Homo sapiens: one gene and its partners. The protein of the gene in region 2 purifies or fractionates together with the protein of the main gene of each other region. This does not show direct contact. Each region holds a gene or a part of one and is shown on either strand. Other genes may lie near its edges.

Region 1 (4,321 bases), on a different chromosome or scaffold from region 2:
AACAATCCAAAGAGAAATAAGACTTACGGCTGTTTGAATGACTGTGTGTGGGCCGCTGTGGTCTTCAGGTGAGCAACATTAATTTCCTCTGAGAGCTCTTCTACAGTCTCAATGTCCACGTGCTCCTCATCATCCTCAATGTATTCTACACAGTTATTCTGAAATACATCATTATAAAAGTAAATAATGTATTGAGTGGCAAGCACACCTAAACTTTTCAAATGTTTGTTCCCCTTATAAAACCAACTAATGCCAGACATTCATGTTATATCATGAGTACTGATAATCCTAAGATTGTTAGTCATAATAAGGAATTAAGACAGAAAGATAACATATCATTAGAATTAACAATCAAGAACTATAAGTCATATATATATGTGAGCCGTGGTGGCTCACACCTATAATCCAGCACTTTGGGAGGCCCAGGCAGGTGGATCGTTTTGAGCTCAGGAGTGCAAAACCAGCCTGGGCAACATGGCAAAACCCTGTCTCTACAAAAAATACAAAAATTAGCCAGACATGGTGGTGCTCGCCTATAATTACAGCTACTCGGAAACCTGAGGTGGGAGGATTGCTTGAGGCCAGGAGTTCGAGGCTGCAGTGACCCAAGACTGCACCACTGCACACCAGCCTGGGAGACAAGAGTAAGACTGTCTCAAAACAAATTAAATAAAAAATAAATAAACAGACATAATTAAACTTAACAGCATCCTCAAAGGACTGCACTGATGCTTCAGTGTTATTTCTAGTGGACAAAATTCAGGCACAGATATATTAAGGTTTCATAAATCTTAAGATTAAATAACAGTAAAATAAAATTTGGTGAAAGAAATATAGAAAGGAGAAAAATTCAAGTGCCACTTTAAGGGGGCTTCATGACCAACATCCTATCAGATGCCCACAAATCAACACACATTAGCATACACAGGCAGGTATAGAAATAGGATACAGCCTAGTCCTGCAACTCTCTCAAAACCACAAAATGAGAGCTTGTAAGGAATTTCAGGTTTCAAAAAAGCCCACGATTGCTGTATTTCCTTATTATACCAAAAAAGGAGTCAAAGTGTTTACTGAGCACCTGTCACAGAAACTTGCTAAATATTTTATGTAACACTAGAGTTATGTGGATATATAGGATAAGCAGATCTTTTTAAGTCCACCTTTACAAATAGTATTTGCTTGCAACATTTCTGTGCCCCCTCAAAAAAAAAAAAAAAGTGTTTACTATGCCAGAAACATAGTAAATGAGCCCACCTCCCGGGATTCAAACGATTCTCCTGCTTCAGCCTCCCGAGTAGTTGGGACTCTAGGACTGTGCCACCACACCTGGCTAATTTGTGTATTGTTAGTAGAGATGGGGTTTCACCATGTTGGCCAGGCTGGTCTCAAACTCCTGACCTCAGGTGATCCGCCTGCCTCAGCCTCCCAAAGTGTTGGAATTACAGGCGAGAGCTACAGCGCCTGGCATAACTGCAGTATTTCTAAATAATATTCCAATAACTTCCACAAGGAAGATTTAAATTAAAGAAGCTATTTACAACTTCCCTCACAGTATTCCAATGCTAATCATAAAGGTAACGTAGGTGTGAGATGTGCAAATAAAAACAGTGTAGACTTTAGATTTTAGAGATCACTTAATATGACCTTTAAAAAAAAAGTCAGTATAACTTGTTTGCTTGTCAAATTCCCTATTAGTACATTCAAGCAATGCCTCCTTGTATGATTAAGATACTTCAGGCCGGAGGCAGTTGCTCATGCCTGTAATCCCAGCACTTTTGGGAGGCCAACGTGGGTGGATCACCTGAGGTCAGGAGTTCAAGACCAGCCTGGCCAATATGGTGAAACCCTGTCTTTACTAAAAAAATACAAAAATTAGCTGGGCATGGTGGTGCCCACCTGTAATCCCAAGCTACTCGGGAGGCTGAGGCAGAAGAATCGCTTGAACCGAGAAGGCAGAGGATGCAGTGAGCCGAGATGGCACCACTGCACTCCAGCCTGGGCGACAAAGCGAGACTCTGTTAAAAAAAAAAAAAAAAAAAAAAAAACTTTAAAGGTTCTATTATGTAAGTTCCACTAATAGTAATAGTTTTCACTGGTTTTAAAGTTGAACTGTTTTTTGGTCTCATGTTAACTTGGGCTGACTTACAGTGTGAGACTGCAAAAAACACAAAAAAATCAGCAATATAACTCCTAAAGTCAATGAATTTACATCCATTCTTGAAAAAGATTAGGCTATGGAGAGAAGGTATAAGTCAAATGAATACAGAATCATCCAATTTTAGAGCAAGATCCTCCTTTATAAATGAGACAATGGAGGTACTCAAATAACCAATATAAGAACATTAAGACCAGCCTGGCCAAGATGGTGAAACCCCATCTCTACGTAAATACAAAAATTAGCTGGGGCGGTGGCAGGCTCCTGTAATCTCAGCTACTCAGGAGGCTGAAGCAGGAGAATTGCTTGAGCCCCAGAGGTGGAGGTTGCAGTGAGCTGAGTTCGCACCACTGCACTCCAGCCTGGGCGACAGAGTAAGACTCCATCGCTAAAATAAAATATTTCAACATTTTAGATTTTTAAAACAGTAATCTTTTTGTCTTATTTTATGTGCATAAAGCAGTTAAGCAATAACAGAAAAGGACCAGATAACACAGAGGCAGAATGAATCTCAAGGAAGTGAGATTGTAAAACAAGCAGTTGTATGACAATCAGTGCAGACGGCTGTCATCTGCTCCTGAAAAGAAGGACACAGTTTAGATTTTAGGGCACTCCACAGGCAGCTGGTTATGATCTCCCCATGTTTTACATCAGACCTTATGTCAGGGGTCAGCAAACCACAGCCCACTAACAACTTCTTTTTTTTTTTTAACCCGAGACAGAGTTTTGTTCTTGTCGCCCAGGCTGGAGTGCAATGGCGCGATCTGGGCTCACTGCAACCTCAGCCTCCCGGGTTCAAGCGATTCTCCTGCCTCAGCGTTCTGAGTACTGGGATTACAGGCACCCATCACCACACCTGGCTAATTTTTTGTATTTTTAGTAGACACGGGGTTTTGTCATGTTGGCCAGACTAGTCTCAAACTCCTGACGTCAGGTGATCCACCCACCTCGGCCTCCCAAAGTGCTGGGATTATGGGTGTGAGCCACCGCACCTGGACTTTTTTACTAAAGTTTTAATGGAATACAGCTGCTTTTATACTACAACAGCAGTCAATTAGTCGCAACAGAGAGCCATCTAGCTCTCTGCAAAGTCTAAAACTATTTACTATCTGGCCTTTTACAGAAAACGTTTGTACAACTCCTGCACTGTATCAATACCTGACAGTTACTTATTTAAGTAAATACAACAACCCTAAATAGGAATCCTATAAAAAAAACTTCAGGAAAATAATAAAAATAGGCCATAAAGGTCATATTACAAAGGACGAAGACCAAAGTCTAGAATATAAATTCCAGAGACTAAATATTTAATTTTTGGATATAAAAGCAACTCAAGGCAAAATGGTACTAGAATATGATGGTATTTTCCAGTTTTTCTCCAAAAACAAAAACATCTCTCTATATGCAAGTGAATAAGTTCTCCTCTAGTTCTAAGGTCACCCATTCCCAGTTTCTGATTAACATCTACCAGAGAAGCTACAACCACCTCACATAGAAAACGTCATAGAAATTGACTGAGGTCAAATGGGAGTAGTGGTTTCGGGATTTTAAAAATCTAACTCGGTAGGGACTCTCAAGCACCTATCCCCCAAATATTTAAGCCAGCCTTCCCATAAAACCAGACAAGTCTCAAAGAATAAAAGCTCAATAAATGATGCTTGATTGACACAGCCTAAAGAACTACTAAGCCATTTAAGTCATAATCTTAAACCTAGGCATCCAATTAAATGTATTATGCCTTAGTGCTCTTCTGAAAAAGCTTCTGTCTTTAATAAATCATTTAAATCCTTTAGGTTTCAGTCACAACAAAAATGGGCTCACCACCTTTTCTACATCATCAACCTCCTCACTCTGGTAGTCAGAAACAACATCCACAATTTCATCAATAGAATCATCAGTTTTCTCATTATCATCTTCATCATCTTCTTCCAAATCCAAAACAGTGAAGTCAGCACTGCTTCTCCCACCCTTCTTCTCTTGCTTTGGTTGTATCTGTTCTCCAGGTAGCAGTAAGTGACCCTGAAAATGTCCATTCCCTCTGCTGCTTTTTGCAGCTCTCCTAGGAACAATGGAGAAGGCTGAAGGATTAGAAATCCTACTCCAAGAATCACATTCAGTTTTCAAAACTCTGGCATCTTCAGTAATTCCACTTTTTCCAAGTAAGTC
Region 2 (5,012 bases):
TCCCACTACCCATGAGATAAGGAAGAGGGTTTGTTGAGCTGATTAACACATAAACCATTTGCAGATGGCAAAGCTAAAGGAGCACACTGTAACATACGCCCACTTGGGCTTCGGAAATCGCAGACACCCACCCCTAGATGCTGCTGTGAGGCCAGAGCCCGAAAGCGCTCACTCCGGTTCCCGCACCGGTGCATCTGTGTGCTCCCCCTCCCCGTAAGGGGTTTGAGCTGCAGGGCGACCTAACTGGCAAGCCGCACACCTGTTGCATGTCCTTCAAGGGGAATCAGGGATCTCTCACATTTCAATTAGTCATCAGGAAAATTCATATTATAACCACGGAGAATTATTGCTTTGTGTTACCAGAAAAGCTAAAATTACAAGGATTAAAATTACCAAGTATCTCTGAGGGTATGGAGCAACTTGGACACTGCTGATAGAAATGTCAAGTGATGTCAAGTGTTATAATCCATTTGGAAAATTGTCTAATTTTATCCATTACACCTAAACATAAATTATGTCCCAGTGTTTCACTACCAAGTATGCACTTACCAGAAATGTGGATTGTGTTTACCAAAAACCTCATAATATAAGGCCCATAGCAGCACTATTCATACCAGCTCCAAACTAAAATCTGCTCAAATGCTCACTAACAGGCACACAGATAAATAAAATGTGAACTATTCAAAAAGTGGAGTATTAAATCGCAATAAGAATGAACTATCTGTAACTACATCTAACAATGTGTTTGAATGGTCCAAACACAATTTTTGGTGAAAAACTCTAAACATAAGAATAAACTGCTTCTTTTTCATTATACAAAGTACAAAAGCCAGACAAATATATTCCATGTTCTTGAAGATCAGAATCGTGGTCTCTGTGTGTGGGGGGTGTGGGAGAGGGTTGAGAGGCGTATTGACTGAAAAGGAGTACTGGGGTTTTCTGGGATGTAATAATGTTCAGTGTTTTGACCTTGGTGGTGGTTTCACAGGTATCTTTACCTTCTCAATATCCAGCATATGATTTATGTTTTCCTTATACATATTACACTACAATACAAAGTTTTAAAAATCAGCATTTCAATTTGTTGATTTTTGGATTATTAAACCTATTTACGTCAAATGAGAGTGAGCCAGTTGCTTCATACACATATACAAAAAGTATTTAGAAAACTAATTTCATAAATTGCTAGAAAAGCAGACCCCCAAATTCATCAAGCACTGCATTCTTGGCAAAGTTTGTACACATTGTCTGGGTGCTGATTGTGAAAACATTGCCTAAACCAAAGTTTTGTATGTGATTTCTTTTAAAGTTTCTCTTATTTCCTGTTCTGAGGTTTATACACAATAGACCCGAATAGAGTTTGAATAATTGAAGGGTTTATGAAATCCAGAGGATATCACCAGCTGCTGATTTGCACATACCAAGAACATGAACATTTTCCAACGGAGAATTTCCCTAGCTTAATAAGAAAAAGTCCAAGAGCCGGTCACAGCATTAACATTTAGTGGGAGTGCAGTGAGAATTGGGTTTAACTTCTGGCATTTCTGGGCTTGTGGCTTGTGGTTGATTTTTTATTTACTTTGCAAAAGTTTCTGATAGGCGGAGCATCTAGTTTCAACTTCCTTTTGCAGCAAGTTCTTTCCTGCACTAATCACAATTCTTGGAAGAGGAGAACTGGACGTTGTGAACAGAGTTAGCTGGTAAATGTCCTCTTAAAAGATCCAAAAAATGAGACTTCTAGCAAAGATTATTTGCCTTATGTTATGGGCTATTTGTGTAGCAGAAGGTAAGATTAAAAGAGACTCTTTTCTGAAAACTGTATTATGAAACATTTGCTAATGATGCTTTTCACAGGAGTAATAAAAATTTGATTTAGAAAATGTGCTTAAGTATTCTGTAACTTGACAATTGAGTGGCTTTTGACATTGTTGAGTTTAAAAAATGTAAGAACCTTATTTGAATGGTATATCTAAATATTCATCATAATTATATTTAATATAAAATAGAATAAAATGTTTTAATAAACATTTCTGAAAAACTATGATCTGGAATAATCATTTCCCTTGTAATTATCATAAAATGTAATTTACTTTTTTGCTTAGGAGTATAACCAAAATGTATTATGTGAAAGCATTAAGAAGGATGTGAATATACATAGTCAATAAAAGCCATCAAATCATAATGATTAGATTTATTTCAAATATGATTTTAACTCTTCCTAAATAAAAATTCATTTATCATTTACAACTGATATTGTCATGACCTTAGAATTCTTGTAGACAAGTATTACTTGTATTATCAGAATAAAAATATTATATAAATTTGAAACCCAATTGAATATACAATATTTGTAACAGTTAAGTTGTTCAATAGAGATTTTTTTCCTGTAGTTGTATATAACATATATTCTTGAAGAGCAGTCTTTTGGAGTAGTGAATATGAATGTAGGAGTTTTTTTCTGACCTCAGTAAGACAATTTCTGGATTCATAATAAAATTTAATTATATCACTGCTTCTTGATAGATTAAAAAGCTTATTCTTGGAGGAGGTTTGCTTTCCTAGTTTTTGATAGGTAACCAGTTATGTGATAGATATTTGGTAAACATTTTTAAACTGAATGAATTACATATTATTCATAATTTCTAAAATCTTTTCACTTAGTAAAGAAATTTTGATTGAGTGACCATTACATAGCCTCTAGGAACTGAAGAATATTAGCAAATAATACAAATCTCTGTTTCAGTCTTCCAATCTAGAAAATAAAAGCAGATATATTCTTATAGTTATACACTTTGGTAATTTAAAAAATATTCAAATATGTTTAATACCTTTTGAAAGGTTGAATTATTTTCAGTTATATTTTCTAATGTTATTGCTTGTTCTTTGGCTTGTAAACTTTATATGTAGCCACTTTTTAAATGAAGAAAACAATTATTTCCTTGTACATATAAATATTATAATTAGTATTTTAAAATGAAACCTTTTTGTATTTACAAACAGTTCCAGAACAATGTCAATATTACCTATTGTAAAAGACATCTTTTTCTGTTTCTTTGTGTAAATATTTCTGTCTTTTCTTACTAAATTTATGGGAATGTTTCTAACGTTTCATACCTACATACTGTTTGCTCCAGTTTTACATAGATACCATTTGTCATATAAGGGAGATTTGTTTTATTTCTAATCTTTAAAATCAAGAATCAATGGCAAGTTTAATAAACAGTTTAAGTTATTAAAAAGTTGAATTTGAAATATTATTAAAATAGAGTACATCAAAGTATATGTGATAATTAAACAATAGTGATTTAAACATCTTATTTACATAATTGATTATTGCTGACTTGTTTCACTTTTATTTTATTTTTCATCAATGTGTGTTTAAATGTGGTATCAGTTTCTACTGGTGAATTGAACATCGGCACTATATATGTTATGGTGAAAATGATATAAATCTGATTATTTCCTAAAAGATAAAGCACAACTTTGTATTTAAAGCAATGCTTAGGCCAGCCTCATAATTTTCATAAAAGCACATGTAATGCAAAAGCCAATGGAGAAAAACTACATGAATTTTCAGTGGATATCAGACTCCTAATTTATTCCTTGTTTCCCAAATACTCTCTGAAACTAAACTAGTTCGAGATGTCCATCAGTTCTATTAATCTACCATATCTAAAAAATTTTTACTTAACAGAGTAGCTTTGATCATGAAAAATACTCACATATATTTCAATATTTGCTTCTGTTTATATTTTCCACATTGAATACTGAATACCAAATTGAGAAGATAGTTTGAATACTATCACAATCTGCTTTATTCAACAGCATAACATTTTAGCATTACTTCTGCTCTGTTAAGAGTGAACTTTCTTCAAAAAAAACACTATTCATTACTAAGAAAGAATTATAGCCAGCAGGAATAATTTGTAATTTCAGCTTTCTATTTGTTTTCTTTTTTTAATATATTGGGTACTACATAGAACCTTTCTAATGCAATATATTGTCTACAATAACATTTCCAATTGTGTAGGAACGTTAATTGCCTCCTTGTTTTAACAGTCTGGCTCAGGGGGTCACTGCAGGCTACTAAGAATTGGGTCAGATTTACAGGACAAAGTTTAAAATAACAGTTTCTCAATCGTACCACCTAATTTCACCTTTTTGAAATATAGTATGACCAAGGTTTTGAATATATTATGACCAAGCAGATTTTTTAGATTTAGGGTCTAACAATTGTGTACTATATGAAATTAGGCCACAGCCCAGAAATTCCAAGATGATTAAAGTGAATAAATTAAAACTCTACTGAAACATGTTCAAGTAAATACTGGCTGTGTTGTTTGGGAGACATGTTTTTTAATCCTGGAGATTTAGAGTGCAGAAACGTTATTTCAGGTCCCAGAAGACTTTATAGATCAGAGATTGATGGATTCCATTACAGTCAGAGAAAGGAGAATAGTGGTCTAAAATCCTAAATTGTATGTTTGAATTTCAGTGTGATAAATAAGAATTCCCCTTTGCTCCCCCAAACCCCCATATTTTCAGAGATAGTAGTATGTGTATTTATCTATATGGTGTGATTTAAATTGTGCGATGGCCCAATTGGCTTCAATATCTCATCTCCTCCTAAAATACTTTACGTGTTGATATTAATATTACTATAATTTCAACCAATCTGTCATTTACATGGAATGACAAATACACTGAATACATATTTTAGGATAGTTAAATTTAGTATTATTCATAATTTACTTTGAATTATTATCATCTGACAACTTCCCTGAAACAATTTCAGTGGGCGGGGGAGGGTAGAAATGGATGTTGATGAGGATAAGAATAGAACAAAGTGATTCTGGAAGATGGGGTTTTCCCAGGTAGGACAGATCTGCTGGTTGAAGTGCTATAGTGAGTGCTATAAGAGAAGGGGTAGAGAAAATGCCCACAGAAATGGCACGAGCCTGAGACGTCTGCCAAGGCAAGCTTTGCTTATTTTAAATTTAGGCATATCCTGG
Region 3 (4,321 bases), about 140 Mb from region 2:
TAGGGTCAGGGCACAGGAGGGTCTTCGCTCCTCACTTTGCTGGGAGCTTCTTGAGACTAGGATAGTGTCTGATTCACTTCTATGACCCCAGGGTCTGGCAGAGGTCAATAAAAGTGTGCAGAATTGAACAGCATCTCTCAGGCCATTTCCTCCAGTAAATGATTCTAAGGATATGTATGTTCCTTCTTCCTTTCCTCCCTTTACTGGGTGCCTTTTGTATATGGGTTACAGTGCTGGGTGCTGAGGGCACAGAGAGGAAACATACATGCCTAGCAGCTCACCTGTGAGAAGTGCTCTGGGAGAGGGGTCTTGGGAAGAGAGCGTGGGAAAGGCTGCCAGGTGGAGAGTGGGCTGCAGAGCCTTTGTGTGCAGGCAGCTCACAGATTGTTTACAAACAAATCAGTTGGTTTCCCTGTTCCTGTTTTCATTTGAACAAGTCTCAGGGACTCATCCTATTTGAACAAGCATTTTCTAGGCTTCAGCTTCCTAGTGGGCCCTTGCCTCTCCTTACAGGACTCACCTCAAACACAGCTATCCCAAAAGGGTGGCTCAGGAAGTCAGTGGAGGAGATCAGCGTCTTTCTGTTGCCTCCACTGAAGTCAATGCTGGACAGTTGGTGTAGCTTGGAGTCTACCCAGTACAAGCGCTGGCTCAGCAGATCTTGGGAAGGAAGCAGGATCAGGTCATGAACCTGGGACCCCAGTCTGGAGCTCTGTTCCTTTGTACCTCTCCCTGCCCACATTTCTAGGCCTCACACTGAGGCCAGCCTACGGCAACCATTAGGAAACAAAGTCACTGGCACCATGAGAGGACCCAGAAACAAGACTCATGGAGTTCCAGACAGTGATCAGGACAAGGCACTAGAATAGGCCCCCAACCCAGGAAAGGCAGGGCTCACCCAGGGTGATTCCGTTGGGCCATTCAATATTGTCTGACACCAGTGTTTGCCGGTCCACACCGTTGAGCCCAGATTTCTCAATCTTGGCCTGGTCCCCCCAGTCAGACCAATACATGAACCTAAAAGACAAAATAACCCAATTTGCCTTCTTGCTGGGGACATGACCGGGGTGGTCTGAGTCACAAGAGCTCAATAACCCATTGACTAGTTGTGGTTTATGTTTAGTAGGGACTGAGAAGACCTCTAAAGTTCTTTTGAACCATCAAATCTTAGATTTAGCAGGCACTTTAGCCTTCACCTCATTTGAGAACTTGAGGAAAACTATTCTCCGAGATTGCACCCAGACTCAGCTGAATAGCCTGTGACCCCATCTCTCCCACTTCTGGCAGTGCTAACTAACTAGAGCCCTAGGGTGTCAGTGTGGGGAAGGCCCTAGTAAGCCCTCTCTTTTCTGGTTTCAGAGGAGAAAGTGGATGAGCTTCCTAACTCAGGTAACCCTCCCTGCTTTTGTCTCCTCAGGCCTACTAGGGCCAGTAGCAGCCCACTGTTACTAATCCAAGGTAGTAAATTAGACCTAACCCACTCCTTTGTAAATAGTCCCTTTATTAAACCCTCCTCTGATTATCTTGAGTATGCAGTGGGTTTCCTCCTGGGACCCTGACGATCCGCAGTGGATTGGGGTTGGGCTGGGTGTAACTCTATGATGTGAGGGACAGGATGTGGCAGGTGCAACACAAGGTCTGCATGAGAACAGACAGAGAACAGGGATGAAGTGAGGGTAAGAGGAGAGGCTCCGTATCTGTCAGAGTGCCTAGTTCTGTGCTGGAAGCACCTGACCCATGCTTAGTGAATGGCAGCTATCAGTCACTTCCCAAGGCCTCACATAACCTCCCATGTGGTACTCCCCTCACCAGCTGCCCTTGCTCGAAGAAGAGGGTTTTCTTATCCCTGTTTAACAAGGAAATAGCAGTAGGAAGCAGCTGTTGATTCTGTTAAACTTAACATGATATAACGCTAAAAAAACCATCTCAAGATATCCACACTGAGGGAGAGAGGGAGTCCTGTTCTGTTCAGAATCCCTAACTCCCAAAACTGAGGGGTGGCCAGAGCAGGGCAACCTAGGTGGTGAGGGCCCAGAGACCATAGGCAACAGGGGTAGGGATGGAGGCAGGCAGTCTGAAGCAGAACAGACCAGTGATCTTGGTCCTCAAATCTTGCTGGCTCTCTCACAGGGCAGGGAATAGACATGTTTTATGTAACTCCAGAGGCCAATGGAGGAAGTTGCAGGGAGATAGATTTGGCATTATGAGGGGAAAAGACCCACTTTCTAATGAGCAGAGCTGCCCCACGGTGAAACAGGCCCTATGGGAGGTAATGAGCTACCTGTCTTTGGAAGTATGTGAGCAGCTGTCAGATGCTCACCTACAGCAGCCTGAAGAAAGGCTTCCTCCCCCAGGAGCTTCTATCAGGCCATCTCTAGAGCCCTACTCTGCTCTGAGACACTCCAATTCTACGATATAACGAGTGGGTGGGAGAGTCCAGGGAGAACTTTGGTGACCAATGCCCAGAGAACCTTGGTTGGGGATTAACAAGACTTTCTTCCCCATGGCCTGTGTCTGAGTGGCCCAGAGCTTTCTAGAACCCTCAAGATAGCCCTTGTGACAGACACAAGAGGACTGAGCACCTATGGTGGGAGAATGGGAAGTTCAGTTGGGACACTCACCCTCGCAGGGGGTCAACAGCGATGGCCCGGGGTTCACTGAGGTTACGGCTGAAGAGAGTGCGTCGGCGGCCACCATCAACTGTGGCCACTGAGATGGTCTTATTGCCCGAGTCAGTCCAGTAGATGTGCTTGTGGACCCAGTCCACTGCCAGGCCCTCTGGAGAGTGCAACTGCTCGTCAATGAGGACCTCCTGCTCTTTCGGGTCACTGGCCTTGTCCATGTAGGCGCTTAAGAGAAAACAGAGATGACCATGGGGCAGATGTTCCACCCATGGGCCCATCTGGAGCTACCTGTGCACCCTTCCCCTCTCTTCCATCTGGGCCATGGCAATAGATTTTTAGAGGAACGTGGATAATTTCCACTCTACACATTCCCTGGGGTACCAGGGTAGGGGTACAGACTTACATGGGCCACGGTCTCTGGCTTTCTAAGGTGGGGCTGCTCCACAGCTCTGCCCATTAGGGTGAGCCAGATATAATACAATGTGATTATGGAAAGCATTAGAGGCTATGGCAGCAGAGGCATGGAGACTGCCTCATCCGAGAGGGCGGGAGAAGGCTTTATAGTTGAGTCCTGAAGGACGAGTTCACCAGGAGCATGAAGTCACCAGGACAGAAAGCCATTAGGGAACAAGAAAGGCTTGTGCAAATGGCCAGAGGTGAGTCTGCTCTGGAACAGTGAGATACTTAGGGGAGCTGCTTATGTGGGTGTCAGACTGCAAGCAGGTGTAGGCAGGAACCCCATCTTGATGGGCTTTGAGTACCACGCCAAGGAATTAGGATTTCTCCCCAGTGATAACTAGACAGGCCAGAGGATATAGTCCAATAAGCATGTTAGTTCACTGTGGCATCTATGGAGTGGATGGGTTGGAAGGAGAGGGAATGAAGCAGGGAAACTGGTTAGGAGGACGTTACAGCATCTGGGTGGGAGATTAAGAGAGTCTGAAGAATGACCGTGCCAGTGAGAATGGAAAGAAGGGCTAAGAATACAGTAGACACTCAGGAGGCAACATTAGCAAAATAGCAAATGCTGTTTCCCCAGAGGTTTTCTTCTTCTTGCCCTCTCTCTGGGTGATTAGTTCCTTAGTGTCCACTGCCATCAATAACTAAGTCTCCAATCCCAACAGCTCTCTTACGATCCAGACTGCAAAGCTAACTAGCTCCCCTTGGATGTCCCATGGACACCTTGAACTCAATATGTCCAAAACTGTTCATCCCCATTCCCTTCCCCTCGGCCAACCAGACGGCCCAAACCCTGAGCCCTGATCCTCCTCTACTGCTTCACACATCAGAGAACAGCACCACCATTCATGAAACCTCCCAAGCCAAAAACCTGAAACTCCCAAAATTCACTATGAAGGAGTAAATTTCTTCCATCAGCCCCATATCTAGTCTGTCACCAAATCCTGCCTCTTTCAGTTACATCTCTTGGACAGGCATTGTTCTAGTTATGTTTTTGGGTGTGTGTGAACGGAGTGTCTGTATGTTGCAGGGAGGCAGGAATCTAGTTGTCAGTGAGTAGCACTTGCTATATTTGCTTCCATCCACTCTTCCACCCATCTGTCCCATCATTCTTTCATCAGTGACTCAGTGTCTACCCAGCGCCTGGTCATCGGCATTCCTGCCAAGTGGATCTCAGGACAAAGAAAGGACATGACTGCCTGAAGAGGGCCCAGACATGCAGTGGGGCAGGTGCTGGC
Region 4 (4,321 bases), on a different chromosome or scaffold from region 2:
AGAGACGGGGTTTCACCATGTTGGCCAGGCTGGTCTTGAACTCCTGACCTCAAGTGATCCACCAGCCTCGGCCTCCCGAAGTGCTGGGATTATGGGCATGAGCCACCATGTCCAGCCCCTCTATCTTCATTAAATGAAAAGCTGGAAGGGGCCTTATAAATCTTCTTCATTATAGATTAGGAAATTGAAACTAGAGAGGCCAACTAACTTGCTCAAGATCACAGAGCCGTCATAAGATCTTTGGTTTTTCCAGTTAGGAGGCTTCACTCCTGAGCTTCCTTAGAACTCATAATGTAAGGGTATTTATTGCTAGCTCTCCATTTCCTCTCAACTTTTAACACATCCAGTGAACTACTCATTCCAATTAGATCACGGAGGGGAATCACACACACCTGCTAAATAATTTTTTAAGACGCCATAAAAGCATTAAACACCAGTTTTAAAATATGTTCTCAAAGATGAATGGCTATGACTAAAATTTTCATGGAAATTTTCAAATGGCTACAATCTGCATGAATCTAATTCCTCAAATCAACCCTCTATTGAGAGCTAAAGCTACGTTCCTCTACAAGCTTTTTCCTAGAAATTTAAACATGGCTGCTGATAATGACAAGGAAAGAAAAGAAAACCCAACTTAGCAAAGTCTTTAAGGAACATATTTCCTTACCTTTCTTTGAAGACCTGAAGTCCTCGAACCAATCCTTCCAGACACAGGAGATCATATCTATTGGCAGGGACGTCAATTTTGTAAAGAACAACATCAGAGGCTCCTGCTGCCTTTACATTACCTTGTTCTTTACTTATTATTTCCTTCTCAGATGTCTAAAACAAGCCAAAAAGTAATGATAAAAATTAAATAATTTAAACTCTCTTTAAAAAGTAAAAGTTGTCAGCCCTATAAGGCAGTAACTACATTATACATATTTTCTATAACAAGAACATGGGATTATTATATCCACGACAAAAACAACATGAAAATATTAAGTGTTATAATCATAGCAGACAGAAAAATACTTCAGCTTTAACTGAGTTCAGATATCTGGCAACCTCAATCACCCCAGAAAAGCACAAATCCATCTAAACAAGGGTCAGCAAGCAATAGCCCCCTGGCCAAATCATACCTGATACTTGTTTTTGTAAATAAAGATTTATTGGAACACAGACAGACCCATTCATTTACATATTATCTACTGCTACTTACACACTGCAATAGCTGAGTTGTAACAGAGACTATAGAGCCAAAAAGCCTAAATATTTACTATCTGGCCCTTTACAGAAAAAGTTTTCCCATCTCAAGCTAAAAGAAAATTAAAACATCACCAAGAACATAAAGTAACAACAACAAAAGTGTCAAAGGGGTAAAAGAAAGATGATTCACTAAATAAAAGAAACACAACTTCTTATAGGATGACTCTAAAACCTAAATCCTGTGGGCACCCAAGTCCACATGAGAATGAGAGGGGTAGTATAAAAACTAAAAACAGTCAGAGACCATCAGACACTGGTAAAAATTAGAAGGGATAATAGGTACAATGGGAAGCAAACTAGTGATAGCAAAGGGATAGTGCAGCAGAATGAAGGCAGCCAAGAGGGAGATGACAGAAGAAACACCACTAGAATCACGTTTAATGCAGTGGCAAAGAGTTTAGAATATCTCAAGCACCACACTACAGCAGAGTAACAGATTTTCTTAAACATAACCACTGCAGAGAAGTTACACTCTATTCCTTATGTTTACTACAGCAGGGAACTGTAAATATATTTAAGAAATTTTCACTTGAAATGATTACAAGTTGTATTCCAACTGTTAATGTTACGCTTTAATTATGTGGAAACTCCACTTAACCAGAATTCCTACTATTTCCACCACCAACAACCTGCTAAAATAACTGATGGATTTCTATCAAAATATGTAATGATTTTTGTTTTACATGATGCCCTCCCACTGCCACAATATAAGTAGTTCAAATTTTTGTCCAAATTAAGAATTATATCCACATTTGCACAATATGCAGAGAAATTCACTTCTGGCCACGAGTATTATGTGCCAAAGTCCCACCTGAGGAACCACAGGAGTCTATGCAATGCTGGGGCTGTACAAGGTGGTGCTGGGCTCCAAAAAACCTCTACCTTGGGCATCTCAAACTTAGGAGGCAAATTTTTATAATTAGGGAAAATGAAAAATGAAAAACAAGAGAATGAAGAGGAGGAGGAAGGAGTAAAAAGGGGGAAAAGAAAAGAAGGGGAATGGGGAGAGGCAAAAAGAGAAGAGGAAGAATTCGAGTTTAAACAATGTTCAATCAAAGGGGTTAATAAAATTACTGTTTCAATAGTGAAGAAAGCTGAGTCACCTCCCAGGAGATGGCAGATCTCAGGAGGGACCTATATACAGAGAAGATAATATAATAACCGGAGAAATGAAGGCATCTGCATTCATTTTTCAGCAGCACCCCCTTATCCACAGGGGATATGTTTCAAGCTCCCCAGTGGATGCCTGAAACATTGGATAGGACTAAATGTTACATATACCATGTTTCTTCCTATACATACATACCTATGAAAAAGTTTAATTTATAAATTAGGCACAGTAAGAGATTAACAACTAATAATAAAATAGAACAATTAAAATAATATACTATAATAAGAGTAATGTGAATGTAGTCTCTTTCTGTCTCAGAATTTCTTATTGTACTATACTCACCTATTTTCAAACCACAGTTTGCTGCAGGTAACCAAAACTGTGGAGGCAAAAAACTGTGGATAAGGAGGAACTACTGTAAAAAAAGATCTAATTCCTTTGCAAAAAAAAAAAAAGACACAGAAGCTTACATCTTCTTTCAGTTTCAGCATCTCAGCTCATACAATGACCATATGTAAAGACTGAATTTGTCAGTGCTACCTGACAATAATCTTACAGAAATTTAAAATCACATAAATTTCAGAGTCAAAAAAGAAAACCATAAAGATCATATAATCCAAACCCCTTATTTCACAAATGAAAAGGAGGCCCAGAGAGACTCGTCTGGACTATAGAGTTCAGACAGGCAAAGTAATTGTCCATAGTTACACAGCTAGTAAATGTTAGAACTAGAACTCAAATAATCTAACATCCAGTCCAACACTCTTAGATATCACATAATTTCAAACATAATTCTGAGGTGTAGTAAAATTACGAATAGCAACTTATAAACTACAGAAATCTCAGCCAATTTCTCAAGTATACAAATAGATTAGTACAAAGATGATCTTTCTGTAACATTAGTAAGGCAGCAGGAAAAATAAGGTAAGATAATGTACAATTTTTTAGCCTGAACATTTTTTAACTTTACACCTAAGGTAGTGTTATAAAAGCACTGAATAGGTGAAGATAGAAGGCTTAGGAAAAAAATAATACTAACTATCAGAAAATTATCTTTTAAATTAAAGTATGTCTTTTTTTTTTTTTGAGAAAAAAATTGGGCTTTTATTGGCAATTACAAAAGTAATAGATTTTCTTACATAATACGTTCCTTCAGTAATATATTTTTCAAGTATTTTACCATAGAATTTCTAAAGTACTTTGTCATTGACCCCATAATTTATTATAAAGTAGGTCCCATAATCACATTTTTTGGAAGTTGCTGAAATTGAGATAAAAAATATTGTTTTTTTATGAGAAAAACTGGACAAAATACAGAATGGCCAAAACTAGATTAACTGGCTCAGTTATGTCTACTAGGTGAAAGAAAATACAGAATCTGTTACTGTAGAAATTTTAAGAGGTTTTGAGTCAGTTCCAGTATAAAAATAAGGCCAAAGTTCTCCTGTAAAATCATCATTAAAAGTACAGAGAAGAGATCTATCATTCAAATTATAAAAGGAAACCTCATTCATTTCACAGTCTAAAAAAATGCCAATCTTACTAGGTGTTACTTTTGGCAGCAGAATAATTTCCTTATGGCCCAATACAATATAATTATTCCGACTAGATTACCAAATTCTCCATAATCCATCCTGTACTAAAATTGGTTGACTCTTCCTCCTTGTGGGAGGAGAGTCACTACAGACACCAAGAATCCATTCAGGCATGTCTTTAACTTCTACTTCCCGGTACTGCCTGCCACAATTTTATCCCTTAGAACCCAGAACAGCTGGGAGCAGATAAAATCTTCTTGGGTTATGAGGTAAGTTTTGTGTTGTATTTCCATATCGCACAGTTTTTCTATCTTCTGAGACTATAAGTTTACGATGTGCTGCTTCAGGATCTAGAATTACATCTACTTGAAATCGCTTGATAATTTTGTTTTGGCCACAATATTGTGGAGACAGATGGTAACCATAT
Region 5 (4,048 bases), on a different chromosome or scaffold from region 2:
TCTTCCCGACGAGCCAGGTAAAAGTGCGGCTGTACACAGCCTTGGCGAGGGCGTCTCGTGCGTACGCGGCCTGCTCCAGGTTCAGCGGGCTCAGGAGCTGTGGACGCAGCGTGAGACAAGGAGATGAATGCCACAGAGCCTGTGCATCCCACCTGCTCCCAGGCTCAGGCAGACCAGGAAGCCGCCACCACTCTGCACTCCCAGCTCCAGCAAGCCTGCAGTATGGGGAGGGGTGCTGGTAGTGGGACCTCAGGGAGGACAGGTGGCCACCCCAGAGGGAAGGTGGTAGAGGGACAGGAGGCCTCCTTCCCGAGGTGGGAGTCTGGTTCTAGCCGGACTGTTACTCTCTTCCTATGTGACCCTGGCCAGCTCACTGTGCTGCTTCTTTTTTTTGAGACAGAGTCTAGCTCTGTTGCCGTGATCTCGGCTCACTGCAACCTCCACCTCCCGGGTTCAAGCGATTCTCCTGCCTCAGCCTCCCGAGTAGCTGGGATTACAGGCGCCCGCCACCATGCCCGGCTAATTTTTGTATTCTTAGTAGATGGGGTTTCACCATGTTGGCCAAGATGGTCTCGAACTCCTGACCTCAGGTGACCTGCCCACCTCAGCCTCCCCAAGTGCTGGGGTTACAGGCGTGAGCCACGGCGCTCGGCTCTCACTCTGCTTCTCTGAGCAGCCTTCCTTCCATCCCTCCAGCATTGCTGAGGGAACCAGGCGAAGGGGAGTGATGGGAGTAGGGGCTGCCTTGGAACAGCTGCCCCTCCACACCCGAGGGCAAGGGCCCGGCCTCACCTCCTCCCCCTTGGCGATGATCTTCCTGTGTGTCAGGGCTTCTCGCAGCGTCGAGCCTTCCACGCTGAGGAGCTGCCAAGGGCAGGCGAGGACACGGTGAGGGTGCACCCCCAGCCCCCGCCCCCGCCGTCCTCCCGTCGCCCTCTGCCCGCCCCACTCACCCTGGTCAGATACTTGAGCTGGTTCTCGGTGGTGACCTGGGCATTGCTCTCCTCGTTGGCAGCAAAGTGGATGTTGCCCAAATGAAGGACGCTGGCCACGATGCTCAGCAGGTCCTGGGGGAGCAGGCCGGGGGCAGGAGGGGGTGAGAGGGGCCAGAGAGCCCCAAGAGGGCAACTAGCAGATGGCCATGCAGGGGTGGGTGGTGAAGTGTCGGAGAGAAGGGGCTGGAAGTGGGAATGGGTGTTAAAGGTGGAAGGTGATTCTGCGGGTGGGATGGGCACGGTGGCTGACGCCTGTAATCCCAGCACTTTGGGAGGCTGAGGCGGGAGGATCATCTGAGGTCAGGAGTTCGAGACCAGCCCAGCCAACATGGCAAAACCCCATCATTATTAAAAATACAAAAATTAGCCAGGTGTGGTGGCAGGTGTCTGTAATCCCAACTACTCAGGAGGCTGAGGCATGAGAATCACTTTAACCTGGAGGCAGAGGTTGCAGTGAACTGAGATCGCACCACTGCACTCCAGCCTGGGCGAAAGAGCGAGACTCCATCTCAAAAAAAAAAAAAAAAAAAAAAAAGGGATTACTGGCCCACGCCTGTAATCCCAGCACTTTGAGAGGCTGAGGCAGGCGGATCACCTGAGGTCGGGAGTTCGAGACCAGGCTGGCCAACATGGTGAAACTCCGTCTCTACTAAAACTACAAAAAATTAGCTGGGCGTGGTGGCGGGCGCCTGTAATCCCAGCTACTCGGGAGGCTGAGGCAGGAGAATTGCTTGAACCCAGGAGGCGGAGGTTGCAGTGAGCTGAGATTGCACCACTGCACTCCAGCCTGGGCAACAAGAATGAAACTCCGTCTCAAAAAATAAAAAACAAAAAAAAAAGGAGATTTTGGGGGTGTGACAGGAGGAAAGCGAGGGTCCCGGAAGAGGCCTCACCTCCACTTCATCCTCGGTGAAATCAATGACTGTCAGAGCCTTCCTGACGACCTTCCAGTCACTCTTGTCGTTGATGGAGGAGACTTTGGCACACTGGCCCTGGAGGAAGGGCACAGCTGGGTTGCCAGCCCTGGCACCAGATCCCTGGGTGGCACCTGCCCTCCCTGCCAGCCACTCACCTTCACCAGGTACAGGTAGCTCTGGGGGTTCCGTTCCAAGCCCAGCCTGCGAAGAGTCTCCTCCTCGCCCCCCTCCAGCAGCTGGTAGAAGATGTGGAAGTTCCGCTCCCCATGATTCTGGTGCACCACTCGTGACTTTTCCAGGAGGTAACTGAGGATGTGGCCACCCACGGGGGCACCCTGTGGGCAGGGCAGGGCATGAGGCCGGGTCACGGGGACTGGGAAAAGAGCCCACCTGCCCCTCTTCTCCCCTGCACTCCTGGGCTTTGGCAGCCAGACCTGGATGCCAATTCCAGCCCTGCCACTAGCTGCGTCGGCTCAGGCACGCCACCCACGCTGGACTCAGTTACTTCATCTAGGAAATGGGGAGATTCAACTCCAACGACCTGGCTGCTCCACCTGGATGCCTGACAGGTATCGCAAATTCAACAGGCCTGAAGCTCAACACCGGACCTTCTCCCTCTTCAAACAAGCTCCTGTTAGTGTCTGCCCTCCTTGGTCAGTGGTGACTACATCCTTCTCGTTGTTCAAGCCAAGGACTTGGCAGTCCTCCTGGAAGCCTGTGTTTCTCCAAACCCTACATCCAATCAGGCAGCTCATCCTGCTGCCTTAACCTTTAAAACATCCAGAATCCAATCACTGCTCGCCACTTCCACTGCACCACACTGGTCTGAGCCAATGTCACCTGTCACCTACATGATGACATCAGCCCCCTAACCGTTTTCCCTGCTTAGCCTGGTTCCCCTCCCATCTATTCGTCTACTCCCAATCTCCCAGTGAAGCAGCTAAAGTCATTTTTTTATTTTTTATTTTTGGAGACAGGGTCTTGCTTTCACCCAGGCTGGAGTGCAGTAGTGCAATCACAGTTCACTGCACCCTCGAACTCCCGGGTTCAAGCAATTCTCCTGCCTCAGCCTCCTGAGTAGCTGGGACAACAGGCACACACCACCGTGCCTGGCTAATTTTTGTATTTTCAGTAGAGGCAGGGTTTCACCATGTTGGCCAGGCTGGTCTTGAACTCCCGACCTCACGTGATCCACCTGCCCCAACCTCCCAAAGTGCTCAGATTACAGGCATGAGCCACCTCACCCAGCCCGATGACTCCCCTTCTACTCAGAGTTAAAAAAAAAAAAAAAAAGTTCTTGCAACAACCCAAAAGGGCCTGCACCGTTTGGCCTCTCTCTGTTCGCGGGCCCCTGCTCTCTTCTCTGGCCGCTGTGGCCTCCGTGCTGTCCTGGAACACTTCCAGCACCCTCGTATCTCAGGCCTTTGTCCTGGCTGTTCCGTTCCCGCTGCCTGGACAGGCACCTGCACAGCCTGCTCCTATCTCCATCAAGCCATTATTTTCTATTTTTTTTAGAGACAGGGTCTCACTCCGTAGCCCAAGCTGGAGTACAGTGGCATGATCATAGCTTAGGGTAACCTTGGACTCCTGGCCTCAAGTGATCCTCCTGCCTCAGCCTCCAGAGGAGCTGGGACAACAGACATGTGCCACCCTACCCAGCTGTCAAGCCTTTATTAAAATGCCACTTTCTCAGTGAGGCCTACCCTAATACGACCGCACCTGCCCCCCACTCCTTACTGCATTTTATTTTCTGCCACGGCCTCAATTTCCCTGTTTATTGTTTATCACCCTGGAAGGCAGGATTTTTGTTTGCTTTGTTTGACTGCTGGAATTGCAGCACCTGGAATAGTCCCTGGTACCCAGTAGGTGCTTCACACGTGTAGAGCCTACTGAATGGGAATCCTCACGACACACACATCCATGGTACCTTGAAGTCAAACTGCACATCCATGTACTTCCCGAACCTGCTGGAGTTATCGTTCCGGAGGGTCTTGGCATTTCCAAAGGCCTAGGAGTGGACAGGGGTATGAGGGACACCTGGCACTCTCCCCCTGCCCTCCCCACCCCGCCTTGTAGCTACTGCTGCCCCTCCCCTCCCGCACTGGGCTTCTCTCCCTGCCCCTCCCCTCCCCTCCC
Region 6 (4,321 bases), on a different chromosome or scaffold from region 2:
AGGCAGGGCTGGCAGTCGGTGCTCAAGCTCCAGTCTCTGCTCTGCAGCTCCTCATCAGTGTGGCCTTGACGAGGCCATTTCCCACACATGAGTGCAGTGGACCCAACCCAAGCCCAACCAGACAGCCTTAGGCTGTGAGCGATGGACAGAACCAGCGCTGACCCTTAGCAAAGGGAGCCTGGGTCTCTTTCTAAAGGAGGATCCTGTAAGTCCCCGCTGCTTCACTTACCCTGGAAACAGACACACACACAGGACGCACAGGAACATAGACAAGCACACATACAAACAGGTACACATACACATACACATGCACCCACATACAGATACACACATATATACATGCACACATGTGCATATACACACCTTACACGTACATACACATACATATAGACACATGCACACACATATATACATGCACATACACGCACACACACCTCACACATACATATAGACATGCATATTTATACATGCACACATATGCACACATACACACCTCACACGTACACATATGCACATACATACACATGCACACACATATACATGCACACATATGCACACACATACATACCTCACATGTACATGCATACACACAACCATACACATGCACACACATACACACCTCACACGTACATACATACACACACATACATATAGACACATGCACACACGTATATATATGCACACATATGCACACACATACATACCTCACATGTACATACATACACACACACACACCTTACACACATACACATGAACACACATATACACACGCATATACACACGCATATACACACGCATATACACACGCATATACACACACATACACACGCACACACACGCGCACACACACGCGCACACACACGCGCGCACACACACGCACACACACATATACACACGCATACACACACACACGCATATACACACGCATATACACACACATCATATACACACACATATACACACGCATATACACACACATCATATACACACACATATACACACATACACACACACATACACACACATACACACACATACACACACATATACACACACATACACACGCATATACACGCATATACACACGCATACACACACACATATACACACATATACACGCATATACACACACATATACACACATATACACGCATATACACACACACATACACACACATATACACACGCATATACACACACATACACACATATACACACGCATATACACACATATACACACACACATACACACGCATATACACACGCATATACACACACACATATACACACACATATACACACGCATATACACGCATATACACACGCATATACACACACATATACACACGCATATACACACGCATATACACACACATACACGCATATACACACGCATACACACACGCATATACACACGCATATACACACGCATATACACACGCATACACACACGCATACACACACGCACATACACACACATACACACGCATATACACACGCATATACACACGCATATACACACACATATACACACACATATACACACGCATACACACACATACACACACATACACACACATATACACACGCATATACACACGCATATACACACGCATATACACACATATACACACACATACACACGCATATACACACGCATATACACACACATATACACACACATACACACACACATACACACATATACACACGCATATACACACGCATATACACACACATATACACACACATACACACACACACATACACACACATATACACACACACATATACACACACACATATACACACACATATACACACACACCCACGTGGATAAATGTTTACCCAGCACATTTCCTGTCAAAGCCTGTTCCTTCCCTTGGTTCTCCACATTGCAGCTGTTGCCTTTCTTTCCTTTAATTTTTTTGTCTAAGAAATCAGGTTTTGCTTTGTTTGTTCCATTTATTTTGCATTACAAAAATTTTGAGAGCTTATTTTATGCACTAATATTTTTCATAATTTATGAGAAAACACATGATCCTCGCTTTAAATAGTCCAAACCTATGAACTAGCCAGATCTGGGCATGTTGCCTGGCGAAGTGAGAACAACACAGGCTTTGGAGTTAGACACAGGCTCGAATTCCTTCTTCGTCCTTATTTCCTTATTTGCCTGAGGGTTTGGGCCGATAACCTCTGTGAATTTCAATTTCCTTCTCTGATAAATGGGATGGCAATAACCACCTCATGAAGGTTAAGTGAAGGATTCGATGAGAAACGTCAATGTGTGTATGAAAGCTCCTTGTCTGAGCAGATGCTCAATCAAGGCTGACCCACACCTGAATAATCTCCAGGTCTTCTTAGGAGAAGATCTGGTCTGCACACAACCTTTTCAGAAGTGCATTTTACACACACAGTTGTGTATACACAATACACATATGTACAGAGAGACCAGGAAATCTGAGCAAGCATTTGATCCTGCAGAGCAATGTCCTTGTTGTATCGTATCTCTGGCTTGTAGCTTTTGGCTCCATGCTACCCTCTCCACCCTGACCTGTGCAGACTCCTTTTGCCCTTAGTCTAAGTAAGCGGTTCTCAACTTTCAGGTGCTTTGGACTCATGTGAAGGCGCGGTTCAAACACAGCCTGCGGGGCCCCGTCCCAAGAGTTTCTGAGTCACTGGGTCTGGATGCTCCTGAGAACATGCATTTCTAGCACAGTCCCACGTGATGCTGATGCTGAGGTCTGAGGGCCACACTCTGAGAACCGCTGCTCTGCGTGCTCTGACCCGACTCTGGACTCCTTAGAGCTGTACCCCGGAGTTCCAGGGGTGCACTAACCGTCCCTGTGGAAAATGGGCTTTTCTTTCCTTAAATGTTGCATTCAATAGGCAGACCTTCAGCTTTCTCATTTACAGAGGACCTAATGAGTTGTTTTTCATAAATAGAGTATGAAGCATGGTTTTAGCTGCCTTATACCTTGAAGGCATCTTAAAGCTTGGAAATTATTTCGAATGGCTTGCTAACCCTGAAAGGGTTTAAAAAAACAAAAACCAATTTGGAAAGGTTAATACTGGGGGGAAAGTGGTGGAGAAACTTTGTCTCTCTGTCCCTTTCTTCCTTCATCCCTTTTTTCCTTTCACTACCAGACTCAGTCCTGTCCCTCCCACTCACTAGCTCATGCCTAACCGCCCAGGACCTCACTATTTTCCTCTGTGAGAGCAGGGGATTGAGTTCGAGAATCTTTGTTCTGATTTCTTTCTTTTTCTACTTCTGAAAGCCAGAGGTCCCTCTACGAAAAGCACTGGGAGAATGAAATGAGTTCTTGATTTTCACCAAATGAAAGGCGCCTGGACTCTGGGTGGGTGTAAGCTAAAATAGAGGGTGCTGGCCGGACTGGGTGGCTCACACCTGTAATCCCAGCACTTTGGGGGGCCGAGGCAGGTGGATCACCTGAGGTCAGGAGTTTGAGACCAGCCTGGCCAACATAGTGAAACCCTGTCTCTACTAAAAATACAAAAATTAGCCAGGCGTGGTGGCACACGCCTGTAATCCCAGCTACCCAGAAGGCTGAGGCAGGAGAATTGCTTGAGCCTGGGAGGTGGAGGTTGCAGTGAGCCAAGATCATGCTACTGCACTCCATCCTGGGTGAAAGAGTGAGACTCTGTCTCAAAAAAATAAATAAATTAAAAAAATTAGAGGGTGCTGAGATGCAACCCTGGAGCTACCCTCAGGCCTCCCTCTGTGGGTTCCACATGGCTCTCTCCCCACTGCCCCACCACCCCATTTGTTTATTTTGCTTCCTCACTCAAACCCTGCACCCCAGCCCAGGGAACCCCTCCCTGCTCCTTTCTATTTCCTTCCCGGGGCAGCATTCTGCATTTACCCTCAAGCACTTAGAACTTTGCAGAATAATTGCAAATATTACTGAGAACTCAGACTACTTTCTGAGTTCAAGCCCATCTTGGGGCTCTGCTCACACGGACTGGCCCTTTAGTGTAAATCAACACTTGAGTTTACCTGTCTATCTCCACCCCTTAAAGACACTTTGGGTGTTATATTTCTTTGGTGTCTCCATTTCTGCTAAATATGCCAAGCCTTTCACTATCCCTCTGGGTCATTTGGCTCTCAGCAGTGACTCAGGATGCTTGGAAAAGCCTGACATGGCCAATAGTGCCTTATACTAAATCATATTCTCAATCAATATTTGTTGAATGAATTGAAATTCAGATTAGTATTCAGGCACTTAATTAAATCAATTTATTTTCCAAAGCAAAACAACCTCTTTTAAATTCTTTCATGGATGTACATTCTCTCTGCAAA
Region 7 (4,321 bases), on a different chromosome or scaffold from region 2:
AACTTTAAGAACATTAAAATAAATGTAATTTTAAAATATGTTAAGACCATAGAATTCCTGTGGTCTGTATGCCTGTGACTACTATAATAACTTTTAAGTAGAGGAGATACTCTCTTACATATTTAAGGTTATTTTTATGCATAATAGAATTGCTTTCTTCTGACTAACCTACATGGCAAACTTTCCCCAACCCTCTTTTTCTGGAAATGAATACATTCCTTTATTCTTTTCTCAAAGAACTGTTCTTTATGAAGTGATATAAATAGCCTACAAATAAACATTAATAGCAAAAGTTCATATAATTTTTTTTTTTTCCAATTTGAGATGGAGTCTCACTCTGTCGCCTAGGCTGGAGTGCAGTGGCACAATCTCGGCTCACTGCAACCTCTGCCTCCCGGGTTCAGGCGAATCTCCTGCCTCAGCCTCCCGAGTAGCTGGGATTACAGGAATGTGCCACCACGCCCGGCTAATGTTTGTATTTTTAGAAGAGATGGGGTTTCACCATGTTGGGTAGGCTGGTCGCGAACTCCTGACCTCAAGTGATCTGCCCACCTTGGCCTCCCAAATTGCTGGGATTATAGGTGTAAGCCACTCTGCCCAGCCAAAAAGTTAATAGAAATCTTAATCAAAATATAAATATACATTCATAACTGCCATCTACAATATTCTGTTTTGGTCCTATATCTTAATTTGCCTTTATCCACTTTATTATTCTAATTGTCAACTGATTTTAATAAAACTGATACATCTTTACAGTTGATGCACATATTAGCACATTCACAACATAAAAACAAAAATTTAGAGGTAAAGTTTGGGAGTATTTAGGTTAAGTTACACATGTTCAAAAGTTAACACAGACCTATCTGAAAAGTAACTAAGTTACAAAACAATGCACGTCTATATATCAGAATAATCCAAGACTTTACCATCAAGCAAGACTAACAATCTTCTATTATCAGTCATTTAGACTTATTTGTAAAAGAGAATCCAACAGGAAAAGTATCTTTAACTTGGTCGTGGGGGACTTCTAGTAAGAGACACATTATTATACCACAGAAAAACTGTTTAATATAGCTCTCTAACTCCTTTAAGAACTGCTTTAGGAATTTTTATTTTGGCTTTAAGTGGAATCACTTACATCTAGACATCCTTTGAAGCAAAACCACTTAGAAACCAGTATTTTGTGCTAAGGAAGGGAAGAAATACTACAAAATGTTGCAAAACAGAACAAAAAGCTTAAAGGTTTAAGAAATTTAAAGGCACAGATATTTCACATCAATTCAGATTTTATAGTATGCAAACATGAAATAAACCACCGTATTACAACAAATATGTGCTAGCGATTGGTTAGATTTCACACTTCTCTCCAAATGTAACACTGTCACATTGCATTTCCTCTCTAGATGTATACTGATAGCACTGGGAAAGATGTTCAGATGCAGGGACAATCCCAATGTTTACCAAACTTCTGAAAGATGAGTATACGCTACAAACTTAGTTCCAAATATGAAATGAAAAGGAAAGTCCAGCTATTTAGGGGGGTACTCAAAGTGTCAACTGATCATAACCAGGCTTTTAAAATGTCAAGAACCATTTATATGCTATTACCTACTTTTTATTAATTATAATGATGTTTCTTATGTATGTCCAAAATATCAGTGAAATCTCTAATCTCTGGCCTTCAGATTATCTGTCCCCTCAAAGGACTGAAAGCAAGCACTTTGATTAATAGTATATGGCAAATGATGCATGAGAAACAATGAACTCCCCTCAGAGGTGCCCCACCTGTCAATGCTCTTAAACATGAAGCTATCAGGATCTCTTAGATTCAAAGAGATATCAGAATTCAAGGGGACTTTCTTCAGACATAAATACACACACATACAGTATCATTTCTGTCTGTTTCTGTGCCTGGTTCTTCCATTACAAAACTCAAAAATATGACATTTCTTGTGTATACAAAGTTAAAAATGTACTTCTTAAAAAATGCAAACACAATGGCGAGCTGCTATAATGTGTACATTCTGTTCTACACAAAGAAAATACACTCTGAGTACACACAACAATTCACCAAGGTTAAAATAACCCAACCCCTCAAATTAATACACTGGTCCTTTTGATCTCAGAAGGCGCCTTTGCCTTTTTTCCTCCACCCCCACTTTTTTTTTGGTAGTTTACTGAAAGCTTGTTTTTGTAGATAATCTAATAGAAAAATCTTCACCTGCAAATATAAGGTAGAATTTTTTCACAGCTATAGGCTGTAGCATTGATTTCTCCAGATATATCAATGGAGAACAAATATGTATGACACTGTTAATTCCAGATTCTAAGAAAACTGTCCCAAGAGCCTGTTGCCACAGCCATGCCATCATCAGTTACACCTAAGCAGCTCACACGGTTGTCATGACCAGCAAGGACACCTGAAAAAAAAATTCAGTAAAAAATTGGCAATTGTAGGGTTTTAGAATTAAACAAGTATATGCAGAGATTTAAAAGGGTGCTTATAAACTATCAGTCCAGTTTTCTTGAAAGTTCATCAGTTAAAAAATAATAATAATTTAAAAGAAAACAACAAATTTCTCTGAGTAAGAAGACAAGTTAGGAGTAAGCTGGATGTATTTATAAATTTGGATTATTTGAATTTTGACATGCATCAATTTGTGGTTTTAATTTTTGAAAAATCATCTTATAATTCAACTTATATCTAGGAAAACATATGCAGACAATTATTCCACATCTCTAATAAGTTCTCGATATTCCAAATTTTGCTACTGAGCTATGTATGCTATTCTCAACAAAAACAAGATTTTCAATGAAGTTCACTGAAGGAGCCCTTCACCACAGGAACGACAAAAACGTAAGAACAAAGCTGCCTCACATCACTGCTTCCAAGAATACCAACATAATTCATTTACTTTCTTATGCTAATCACCAAACTCTGGAATGTTATTGGTTATAACTTTCTGAAACCATGAAACTCATCTAGTTTTCATTTCTTTCACACATTAAACTCATTTGATGTATTTCCAGTATTTTGGAAGAAAACAAGAAATACAGTAAGATTAATAAGAAAAATTAGAATACATCAAATGCTCAAAATTTTTAAATACAGTGTTTGAATTTGCATTCTCTCTCTCTATTCTTAAGCATATCATTTTCGATCAATCAGGAACAGAAGTTCATCTTGTAACTCTTAATATTCTCTATAGTATCTCCAGTATGGCCATGTTTGGCAATGGGAAAATTTACCATTATGAGTTGAAATAACAAAAAAAATGAACATTGTGGCTAAATACTTTAAGTCACACTGGAGAGGGAAATGAATTAGCAATTCACAAGTCAGGATCCAATTTTAAGTTCAAAGTTCCAGTTGAGCCAACCTGAAACCAGCTTGTAGGCAAAGCAAAACTAAACCTCAAGCATATAAGTGTGGACAACAAGCACATTTTTATTTTGTTATGGATACTAATTGTTTCAATCCAGGCAAAACACCAAATATCTTTAAAAGGTAATTGGCCTTAAGCAACGGAATACTTCCAGGAATCTACTTGCAAAGTGTAAAACTGCAAACCATGCAGTCTCTTGAAAGAGGTTGTAGAAAATTATTCCTGGAAAAAACTTACACTGCCTCTGCTCCCTCAGGAACCCCAACAACTGCATAGCGGGGGTTAAAAGGGTAAGGACATAAATCCACAAGGACAGTGAGATGAGAGCAGGCAATGGCAACGAACTTTCGTAAGCTGGATGGTGGCAACTGTGTTAATGAACCCCAAAATACTGAGTTCAAAATGAATAGTAAGCCAAGTAACAAAATTACACTGCAGATTCTCCAAAAGTGTCCCTACTAGGTAGAACCAGGTATCTCTGGAACAGGTAGGGGCAAAGGCAGAGTAAAATAAGATTGTGCTGGAAAGTGTTCATCAATCAGTAAGAGCCCCCAGGTGTCCCCTTCCTCCACTCTGCAGTCAGGTGACAGATCATCCTGCGCTGTGGCGTAAGGCCAGAGACTCACTCAGAGGAAAGGGTAAAACAGGGTCTCCTGACTGGAAGAAAACAGGCACAGATGCGATTGATAAAACTGTGCTGAAATGGGGAATAAAGTTTACTAGCTAAATGTTGTGGTCCCTCAGGTTTTCTCTTGAAATCAGCCCTCAAACTGGCAGCCAGTTTATACACTTCATGGAGGAAAGTGGAAGATGGAAAAAGGAAGAAAGGCAGAAAGGCAGACACAGCAAAGCTTCCTCAGTGAACGGCCAGCCTAGAGTAAATGGAGGCCGAGTCAGCACACCAGCCACGTGCCCAGAGCTTCAAATGGTTTTAG

The links.
Region 1: the proteins of CFH (region 2) and MGA purify together in Homo sapiens (affinity purification with mass spectrometry, with the first as the bait; one large-scale study listed by BioGRID). This does not show direct contact.
Region 3: the proteins of CFH (region 2) and LRP8 purify together in Homo sapiens (affinity purification with mass spectrometry, with the first as the bait; one large-scale study listed by BioGRID). This does not show direct contact.
Region 4: the proteins of CFH (region 2) and FARSB purify together in Homo sapiens (affinity purification with mass spectrometry, with the first as the bait; one large-scale study listed by BioGRID). This does not show direct contact.
Region 5: the proteins of CFH (region 2) and MYO1C purify together in Homo sapiens (affinity purification with mass spectrometry, with the first as the bait; one large-scale study listed by BioGRID). This does not show direct contact.
Region 6: the proteins of CFH (region 2) and UCN3 purify together in Homo sapiens (affinity purification with mass spectrometry, with the first as the bait; one large-scale study listed by BioGRID). This does not show direct contact.
Region 7: the proteins of CFH (region 2) and GNB4 purify together in Homo sapiens (affinity purification with mass spectrometry, with the first as the bait; one large-scale study listed by BioGRID). This does not show direct contact.

Annotation. Positions count from the first base shown.
Region 1 is NC_000015.10:41,750,274-41,754,594, reverse strand, and holds part of MGA (MAX gene-associated protein), read right to left. Parts: coding exon 3,980-4,321; coding exon of another isoform or gene 3,977-3,979; intron 159-3,976; coding exon 28-158; intron 1-27. UniProt on the Homo sapiens protein: Functions as a dual-specificity transcription factor, regulating the expression of both MAX-network and T-box family target genes. Functions as a repressor or an activator.
Region 2 is NC_000001.11:196,650,390-196,655,401, forward strand, and holds the start of CFH (complement factor H isoform a precursor), read left to right. Parts: upstream 1-1,653; 5' UTR 1,654-1,728; coding exon 1,729-1,786; intron 1,787-5,012. UniProt on the Homo sapiens protein: Glycoprotein that plays an essential role in maintaining a well-balanced immune response by modulating complement activation.
Region 3 is NC_000001.11:53,261,548-53,265,868, forward strand, and holds part of LRP8 (low-density lipoprotein receptor-related protein 8 isoform 1 precursor), read right to left. Parts: exon of another isoform or gene 4,205-4,321; intron 2,850-4,204; coding exon 2,622-2,849; intron 1,018-2,621; coding exon 899-1,017; intron 661-898; coding exon 521-660; intron 1-520. UniProt on the Homo sapiens protein: Cell surface receptor for Reelin (RELN) and apolipoprotein E (apoE)-containing ligands. LRP8 participates in transmitting the extracellular Reelin signal to intracellular signaling processes, by binding to DAB1 on its cytoplasmic tail.
Region 4 is NC_000002.12:222,642,184-222,646,504, forward strand, and holds part of FARSB (phenylalanine--tRNA ligase beta subunit), read right to left. Parts: intron 4,164-4,321; exon of another isoform or gene 3,439-4,163; intron 2,739-3,438; exon of another isoform or gene 2,702-2,738; intron 823-2,701; coding exon 668-822; intron 1-667.
Region 5 is NC_000017.11:1,478,639-1,482,686, forward strand, and holds part of MYO1C (unconventional myosin-Ic), read right to left. Parts: intron 3,921-4,048; coding exon 3,840-3,920; intron 2,248-3,839; coding exon 2,068-2,247; intron 1,988-2,067; coding exon 1,889-1,987; intron 1,068-1,888; coding exon 954-1,067; intron 865-953; coding exon 793-864; intron 98-792; coding exon 1-97.
Region 6 is NC_000010.11:5,367,370-5,371,690, reverse strand, and holds part of UCN3 (urocortin-3 preproprotein), read right to left. Parts: intron 1-4,321. UniProt on the Homo sapiens protein: Suppresses food intake, delays gastric emptying and decreases heat-induced edema. Might represent an endogenous ligand for maintaining homeostasis after stress.
Region 7 is NC_000003.12:179,398,900-179,403,220, forward strand, and holds part of GNB4 (guanine nucleotide-binding protein subunit beta-4), read right to left. Parts: intron 2,421-4,321; coding exon 2,314-2,420; 3' UTR 1-2,313. UniProt on the Homo sapiens protein: Guanine nucleotide-binding proteins (G proteins) are involved as a modulator or transducer in various transmembrane signaling systems.